2 separate regions of the Homo sapiens genome follow, and region 2 is reported to be linked to region 1. Evidence: microRNA targets listed by miRTarBase, many of them from high-throughput screens and not tested one by one. Region 1 holds a microRNA gene; the other region holds the end of a gene's coding sequence.

Region 1 (4,009 bases):
CTCGCCTTGGAAGACTTCCAGGAGGTGATATCAGCTTTGCGGAAGAGCCACTGTCCTGGTGTCAGTACGGCTGCTGCTTGGTACTTGGAGAGAGGTGGTCCGTGGCGCGTTCGCTTTATTTATGGCGCACATTACACGGTCGACCTCTTTGCAGTATCTAATCCCGCCTTGCAAGCTTTCCTGGAGCTAACATCAACTGCGGGGGTGGGGGCCACTAGGTCTGCGCTCAGTGTGACCCAGCGGGGTTTGTGATGTGTTTGTCTTGTGTGTGACGATAACTCACGTGTGGCAGCCTTCTTCTCAGCACACTGCTCTGGCTTGGCAGCAGGGTTAACTTGCGGACAAGGAGCGTGGTGTCAGCACGTGCCTGGATACATGAGATGGTTGACCAGAGAGCACACGCTTTATTTGTGCCGTTTGTGACCTGGTCCACTAACCCTCAGTATCTAATGCCCCCTTGGAGAACTTCCTGGAAGAGGTGTCAACTTTTTGGGAAAGAGACAGTAAACTGGGGCCAGCTGCACTCTGTTAGACTCTGAAGAGAGCATCTGCGAGGCGTTTGCGACATGTATGCCAAATGTGGCTGAGTTGGACTGATTTTCACTCCGATCTCTTTCCTTGGAGGGCTTCCTAGATGTGGAGGCATCCAAGTTCAAGGGAAGGGGCATGCTGTCTATACCATCCCAAAGTCCTCCAGTGATCAGCTGACCTGAGTGTATGCACTTTAATTTACAACCAAGGTCGCCTGGCCCGTCACACCTCAGTCTCCACTGGGTCCTTAGCAGGACCTTTGGTGGAGTCAGCCTTGCTTTGGGGCATCTGTGCCTCTCTTGAGTAACTGAGAAAAGATGGCCCTGGAGGTTAACCCTAAACGCGATAGCTGCTGTGACCAGCCTTTTTATGGCATCACCACCTCTGGCTGTGATGTCAACTTCCAGACGTGATGTGGGGTCTGCTCCACTGGGGTACTTGGATAGATGGTTGGCAAGCAGCATGCATCCAACTCTTGGCTTCTTCCGGCAAATCAACTAACTAACGCTCAGTGTGCAATTCCATATTTAACAGGACTTCCAGCACTGAATGTCAAGTCTGGGGAAGAATCAGTGGTGTTCTTGTCAGTGTTAATCAGTGGTACCTGAAGAGAGGTTTTCTGGGTTTCTGTTTCTTTAATGAGGACGAAACACACCTGGTTAACCTCTTTTCCAGTATCAAATCCCATCTTGGAGGCCTTCTGGTCCAGACCTCAGCTTCAGGGAAGGGCGTTACTCTCAGCTCCAGTCCACTGGACAGAAATCTATGGTTAACCACGAAGCCTGTGCTGTATTATTTTGACTGATGTCATCTGTTCTACTAACCCCAGTGTCCAATCCGTATTTAACAGGACTTCCAGGACTGAATGTCAAGTTTGGGGAAGGAATCAGTGGTGTTCTTGTCAGTGTTACTTGGTGGTACCTGAAGAGAGGTTTTCTGGGTTTCTGTTTCTTTATTGAGGACGAAACACACCTGGTTAACCTCTTTTCCAGTATCAAATCCCATCTTGGAGGCCTTCTGGTCCAGACCTCAGCTTCAGGGAAGGGGTGCTGTGGACATAAATAAGGAGACACGAGCAAATGGCTGATCACTAAGCGTGCCCCATGTTTCTGAATTTTGCCACCGATTGCGCTAACCCTCAATGTCTTATCCCTTCTTAGGAGGACTTTTCAATGTGATGGCAGCCTGGGGGAAGACAGTGTCACCACGACAGTGTCACGGAACATGCAGGTGAGTTGTCTGTGGTTGCCTTCGTTGTGCTCCCAACGGATCGTGTGTGTAATTCAGGCTCTTTCGGCATCTGACCCTGCTGTAGGGGGATGCCTCGTCCTTGCCACACTCAGTGATGGGCTTGAATGAGCCCAGCCCACAGCAGGGGAATGCCAGCATGCCCTGGACAGATAGTGCAGGTGTCCTGCACGCCTGCCCCTAGCCTGCAGTTTATTCTGAAAGGATGTCCTGGATATAATGACACCTTAGGGAAGAAAAGCTGATTCTGAGGTCAAGAGGAGACCTTGGGGGCCCTGGAATTGGCCCAGGTTGAGACCTGTTTATTTCTCACAGGAATTGTGGAGTTGACTTCCTTTAAATCTGGAGGAATCCTTGATGTCATGCCAGCTTGAAGGGAGGGCATTGTCACCAGCCCTGATCCAGGGGAAGGGAGTGGATGGCCCACCACGGGGCATGTACCTCCCCAGGAACACACCTGCTCCACTGACCAGCACATCTGACCTACCCTCAGGGTTGTGTTTCTGCAGATGGTCCTTCTTTGGGGTGCTCAAGGAGAGGTTTCCTTTGGCATATCTGTTTCTTTTATATAAATCATTTCTGTGGACCACTCTTCAGTATCAAACACCAGTTTGGAAGGCTTCCGGATAAGACAGTTGTCAGGCCCAGGCCAGGGTGAGTGGGCCGAGATGGGTGCTTCCCCTGTTCTAAGCGTCCTGTCTGGCAGTAATGCTTGGTGCCCGATCCTTTCCAGGAGGACTTCCTGGAGGTGATGCCAGCCTCTGGGGAAGGAAAAGGCTCCCTGCCAGCTCTAAAGCCAAGGCACAGAAGTAGGTTTTGCTGGTGCTGCATTTGTTTTGATGGCACTTAGCTGTGACTGTGGGTCCTCGGCTCATCTGTGGCATTTGGGGATGGGACTGTGAGGGAGGAGGGCCTCAGGTTCTGGAGAAGGGCCAGGTATTTCCATGTCAACCCTGCTTTTTATAACCAGAGAGAACATATGAGGTAGCACCAATGACCTCCGCCACCAATCCTTCCTATTAGCTGATACCCAAACACCGTTCCTTCCAGCCGAAAAGAGCCCTCATAAAGAGAGGGCAGAGAGAGTGTGTCAAGGCCATGTGACAGCAGGCAGTATGCTGTTGCCTCCGGGGTATCCAGGGTAGGCGGCTGCTGGGTCCATGTAGATTGGGTGCTCTGCTGGCTACGGAGGGGTCAAAGGACAGGTGGCAAGGGTGCAGAGCCGCAGCCTGGCCCTGGGATTTTCTTCTCAGACCTCTGCTCCGGGGTCCACCTTCGGGGGAAAAGAGGGCACAATTTTACAACTTTGTAAGAGGAAACCTGAAGTTTTCTGACCCCTGATTCTCCCCAGCCCTGTCAGGATTGATCTAACTCTCTGTTGAGATGCAAAAGAGTCTGGAGATAACAGTACTCCCCCCACCATGAAAACAATTATTGTCAAAGGAGTTTTATAGCAAACAGAAAATCCGGCCCAGAATTGGCTAAAACATTTGGGGAGCTCACATCAGGAAATGAGATTCGTTTTTATTTCTTGATTCTGCTGAATTGGATTGAAGGCAGCAGAAGGCATTAAGTGGGATTTGACCTGGAGGAAGGTGGCCTGGCGGTGCTCCTGGCTTCCCCGACCCTCCCTCCCTAGCCGTGTGTAGCAGGCACTCACTTTGCTTACAGCTTCCTCGGTGCCATGTATCTGTTTTTGGAATCACACCTTGCCTGGAAGGCTGCTTGGACCCATGGCCAGTGCCACACAGGGGCCTGGGCACCGGCTAACTGCAGACCCAGCCACCTGCTTCTTGACCACAGAATTCGAGATTTACTCATGAGCTCTCTTGACGCACTGACTTTGGGATGCAAACCATTATGACTAGGGGCACTTCCCGTGGCCTGGACTTCCACAAGGAAACCCTGGTTCCACCGTCAGGAAAGCTCCAATACCTGGAAAGAGGTTGTACCTAAAGTGTTCTCTGTATTGGCGGAAAATGTTTCCCGGGCAACCTCTTTTCATTGTGAAGGCTTGAAGAGCTTTTGGCTGACTTCCCAAAAGCAACCTGGGACACGCAAATAGAAGCCATCTGACGTCTGGTCTACCCAGTGCCATGTAGATTCGGGGAATCTTCCTGGAGGTGACACCAACATCGGCGAAGATTCGGCAGTTCTGTTTTGATTTTTTTTGTTTGTTTTTTGATCAGTGCTAATCTTCGATACTCGAAGGAGAGGTTGTCCGTGTTGT
Region 2 (4,116 bases), not on the chromosome of region 1:
TCATTCCCTCCACGCTCACTCTGTGAAGAGTGCCCTCCCCACGCCCCTCACCTGTCTGTGCCCGCGTCTCAGCCTCCTTGCGTTCACACTCTGGCCCCCCTCCTCCCACAGACCGTCCTGGGTGTGTGTAAACTCCTCTCCCACGGGCTGGTCTCCGGCCTCCCGGCATGACCGCCTGGCCTGACGTACCTGCTCTGCCTCCCTGACTAGACTGGAAGCCCCTTGAGGGGAGAGGCAACTACAGGCAGGGTGAGCACAGCCCCGGGGGCACACAGACCTAGCCCCAAGTGCACAGCTGCGTCTCACCGGCTGTGTGACCTTCAGCAACCTCCTCGGCTCCTCCGGGCCTCAGTTTCCCCATGTGGAAAATGGGGATAATGTGCTGCTTACCGTCTTGTTGTAAAAATTGCTTGGCCACAAGCAAAAGCCAAGGATGGCACAGAGGTGTCAAACAGAGTCCCTGCCTCAAATGGGGTGGGGACTTCTGGGAAGGGACCCAAAGGAAGGGAAGTTCATCCATTCAATTCTTCCACACAATCATTCCAATAACATTCATTCAGTGAATACTGAGTGCCAGGCACCGTGCTTGCCTCTGGGAATGGAGAGTGAATCAAACACAAGCCCATCATTTCCTCAGAGAGCCCCTCCTGCATGCCTTGGACAGACTCTACAAATAGCCCCAGGTTCATCTGGCAGGGCTTTCTGATGGGTGGGTTGTGAATTCACAAAACCCACCACAAAGACAAGTCAGCGAACCCAGGCAGGGCACGCCTCTGTGGCACAGAAGGGGACATGTCCTGCTCATAGCCTCTCTGTGGCCCTAGGTAAGCCACATCACTGCCCTCCCCTCTCTCATGGGTGAGCCATCTCCAGCAGCCTCTGATCCTCCCTTCACCTCCCCAATCAGGCCAAGTCGAGGCACAGAAGCATCTTTCAGGCAGGACCGTGGTGCAGGCAGCCCAGGGTTGGAGGGTTTGTTAGCTGCGGGAAGTGCCAGCGCTCCATCAAAGAGAGGGCATGGAGTTGGTCTCTGTCCCAGGGAGAGGAGGCCTCAGCCCTGATATGTTTTATGAGGGAATCAGGGAGTTCATGAAAAAAGAGCTGGGATGGGGGAATGGCAACCAGGCCAGTGGGTTCTGAGGAATGGTTGTTTCCAGGCCAGGATGGGCTGGACCTGCCCATTTAGAACCAAACCAGGGTGAGGATGGAGGTGGATGGAGGACTCGTTCTTCCAGCTGCTGTTGAACCCCTGCTGGGTCAGGCCGCACCCAGGTTCAAGAAACCAGCCAGGGCTAGGCCACTGCCCTGTCAACCACGAGCCCCTCCCCTCTGTCCTGACAGAACTGGGCACCACCACCTTTCACTCCAGCCACCACCTCTTCACACCTGTCTCAGGTGACAGGCCTAGAAGACAGGATTGCCAGGAAGAACATAAAAGCGGCCCAACCTGGGCCGCCCTAGAGAAGTCCCTGACCTCACACATGACCTTCCTTCTCCAAGGGCCTGGACGAGGGCCCTGGACGAGGGCTGCCTGGGCATTTGGTAGATTTCAGGAAGTGAGGTGGACCTGACTTCAGCATTTAATAATGATGTGAGCTAGACAACTTAATTTCTCAGAGGCTGGGTCTCTCCCCCTGTAAAATGGAATCATGACCTGCCATCGTGAGGCTCATGTTAGGTAACACACGGAGAGGCCCTGGTGCCCTGCTCACCTCTCAGCAGCAGCCGAGAAACGGAGCTTCCTTTCTTGGCAGAGTGGCCATGCCTGGACTGTGCCACCACTGCCACCCCACAGGGACCTGCAAGCTCCAGGACTATAAAACCTTGTTCAAGGTTGGGCGCGGTGGCTCACGCTTGTTATCCCAGCACTTTGGGAGGCCGAGGTGGGTGGATCACCTGAGGTCAGGAGTTCGAGACCAGCCTGGCCAACATGTGAAACCCCATCTCTACTAAAAATACAAAAATTAGCTGGGCATGGTGCCGCAACCCTGTAATCCCAGCTACTCAGGAGGCTGAGGTGGGAAAATTGCTTGAAGCCGGGAGGCAGAGACTGCAGTGAGCCGAGATCGGGCCACTGCGCTCCAGCCTGGGCGAAAGAATGAGACCCCATCTCACACAGAAAAAAAACAACAAAAAACAAACAAACAAACAAAACACCCTTGTTCAAGAGGAGTTTTGGCTGGCTGTGCTTGACCACTCCCAGCTTCCCGCAAAGGATTGCTCAAAAGCCTGAGCCCAAAGAGGAGAATAAACACACACACACACACACACACACACACACAAGGGCTTCGGTGTGGAAACAGAGCACACAGAAGGAAAACAGCAGAATAGTTAGAAATGTCATCTAGCCCAGCAACCCCACGGTGGCAGCTCCAGAATCAAAACAGTCTGCAAACAAGGCCACATTCAGTCCCCCATCTCTGGTGTCTCCCTGCTACCAGGGCCTGGCACTGTTCATTCTCCCAGCACTTCTTGCCACACAGCTGCCCAATTGTGGGGGCTGCCGCAACCTGCCTGACACCCAAGGGCAGAGATCTTTGGAGGTAATAATGGTGTTTTTCCATCCTCCTCCTCTTACACACACACCTGTCCCACCTGTCTCCCAGCACAGCCCTCCACAGAAGGAATTCCCATCTCCTAGACAGGAGGAGGCATCCCCTACCCCAAGGAAAAGGCCGCAGAGACAAGGTCCCTTGTGTCCAGGTTTATTTTACATTCTCTTCCAGAGGGGATGTGGGGCTGGGGGAGAGCCAGCAGGCAGGCGGGCAGCACACAGCAGTCTCCCTGGGGAATATTTGAGCCAGGCTAGTGGTGCCTGGCCCCACAGTGCGGGGTGATATGCCAGGGCCAGGGCCAGGACTTGGCAGCCCCTGGGAAGAGGAGGCCTTGGGGCCAGAGCTCTTGCCAGGCCTAGATCGCTAAGAAGGTGCTGCGTCTGTCCCCCGCCTTGCTCCGCCCCCCCACACCCAGCTGGAGGCCAGAAGGCAAAGAGGGCAGCCAGCAAGCTGGGGTGCTGGGAGGAACCCCAGCAGGCGGGGGCGGCCTTTGGTCTCTACGAGGCTAGGAAGCTGGTTCTGGTTAGAGGAACCCCGTGGGGGCAAAGCGGAGAGCTGGTCCCTGTTAGAGGAAACGCTGGAGCAGGATGGGGGTGGGGGACTTGGGGTCTGGTCTCAATAAGGCCTGGAAATGGTCTCCGCTTCAAAGCAGACCTCTGTATTTGGGGAGTGGGGTGGGGAGGAAATGAAAGGGCTGTGGGAGGAATGCCTGTGAGTCGTGGGTGGGAATCAGTCCAGGGGGCTTCGAGGGGGGTCCGAGGGAAAGGCTGCGGGGGTCGTCTGCAGATGCTGGGAGCTCAGGTCCTGGGGAAGGAGGATGTGGGCGGGGGTCCTCTCCCTCCCACGAGTGCCACCGCTCCCCACCCCATCCTGGCTGGCTCCAAGTTGCCATGGAGACCACTCACACCGGGGCAACGTAATTTCCAGGGAACGTTCCGAATTTCTGGGTCCTCCGGGAGACACCTGAAAGAGGAAAGGCAGGAAGAGCTTTCCCCACTCCCTTCTTTAACAGGGATGCAGGGGTGAGGGCCTGCCCCCTGCCGGCAGTGCCCAGAACTGTAGGGGAGTTCTGTAGGGGAGCCCAGAGAGGGAATTGGATTTGCTCTCCTCCTTCCTGCCCCCTAGCGGCAGAAGCTTAGATGGGCAAAGCTACACTTCCCACACTCAACCACCAAAGAATCTGAGCAATCAACAAATGTGCATCACACTGTACACAGCAGAGTCACTCCCCCCCTCCTCCGCAAAGTGGGGACACAGGAGGAGGAATCACAGAACTGAAATCGGGAGAAACGTCCCTGGTCTAATAGGGCACCCTCACTTAGAGATGGGTGGGAAGGCCTATGGGAAGGCTGAATGCATTGCCCGAGAGCACCCCGACGCTTAGGAGTAAGCTTGGGACTCCGATCCAGGCCTCTCAGCCCCACAGAAACTCGTGTCTTGAAGAGGAGGAGGGGGGGGAACCCCAGCGGGCAAAGCATCTGGGGGGCCTGGCACCCGATGCTTCCCCAAAGCCAGCACTTCTGTTGGCTGCTTTCCTTCGTGCCATGAAGAGAAGGACGCC

What was found. The annotated mature microRNA hsa-miR-329-3p reads AACACACCUGGUUAACCUCUUU and lies in region 1 at 1,180-1,201, shown strand. An mRNA with a match to its seed (bases 2 to 7 or 8) in the 3' UTR can be bound and repressed. Matches are read on the target gene's strand: a 7mer-m8 pairs with bases 2 to 8, a 7mer-A1 pairs with bases 2 to 7 and ends in A, and an 8mer does both.
Region 2: miRTarBase lists SORBS3 as a target of hsa-miR-329-3p. Seed matches in the 3' UTR shown: 7mer-m8 at 2,581-2,587 and 7mer-A1 at 2,576-2,582.

What each region holds. Positions count from the first base shown.
Region 1 is chr14:101,025,655-101,029,663 of GRCh38, forward strand. MIR329-1 (microRNA 329-1) reads left to right here and starts at 1,131; the gene lies at 1,131-1,210. It overlaps LOC124903407 (mucin-2-like), which reads left to right. Exons shown (of 5, transcript XM_047432049.1): 5 at 1-4,009. MIR323A (microRNA 323a) reads left to right here and starts at 78; the gene lies at 78-163. It overlaps MIR758 (microRNA 758), which reads left to right and starts at 366; the gene lies at 366-453. It also overlaps MIR329-2 and MIR494.
Region 2 is chr8:22,574,069-22,578,184 of GRCh38, reverse strand. SORBS3 (sorbin and SH3 domain containing 3) reads right to left here. Exons shown (of 21, transcript NM_005775.5): 21 at 2,397-3,518. The coding sequence ends at 3,457. Among named protein-coding and RNA genes, the nearest start is that of PDLIM2, 4.3 kb to the left of the region's middle. RefSeq lists a silencer at 3,600-3,749 and an enhancer at 3,139-3,857.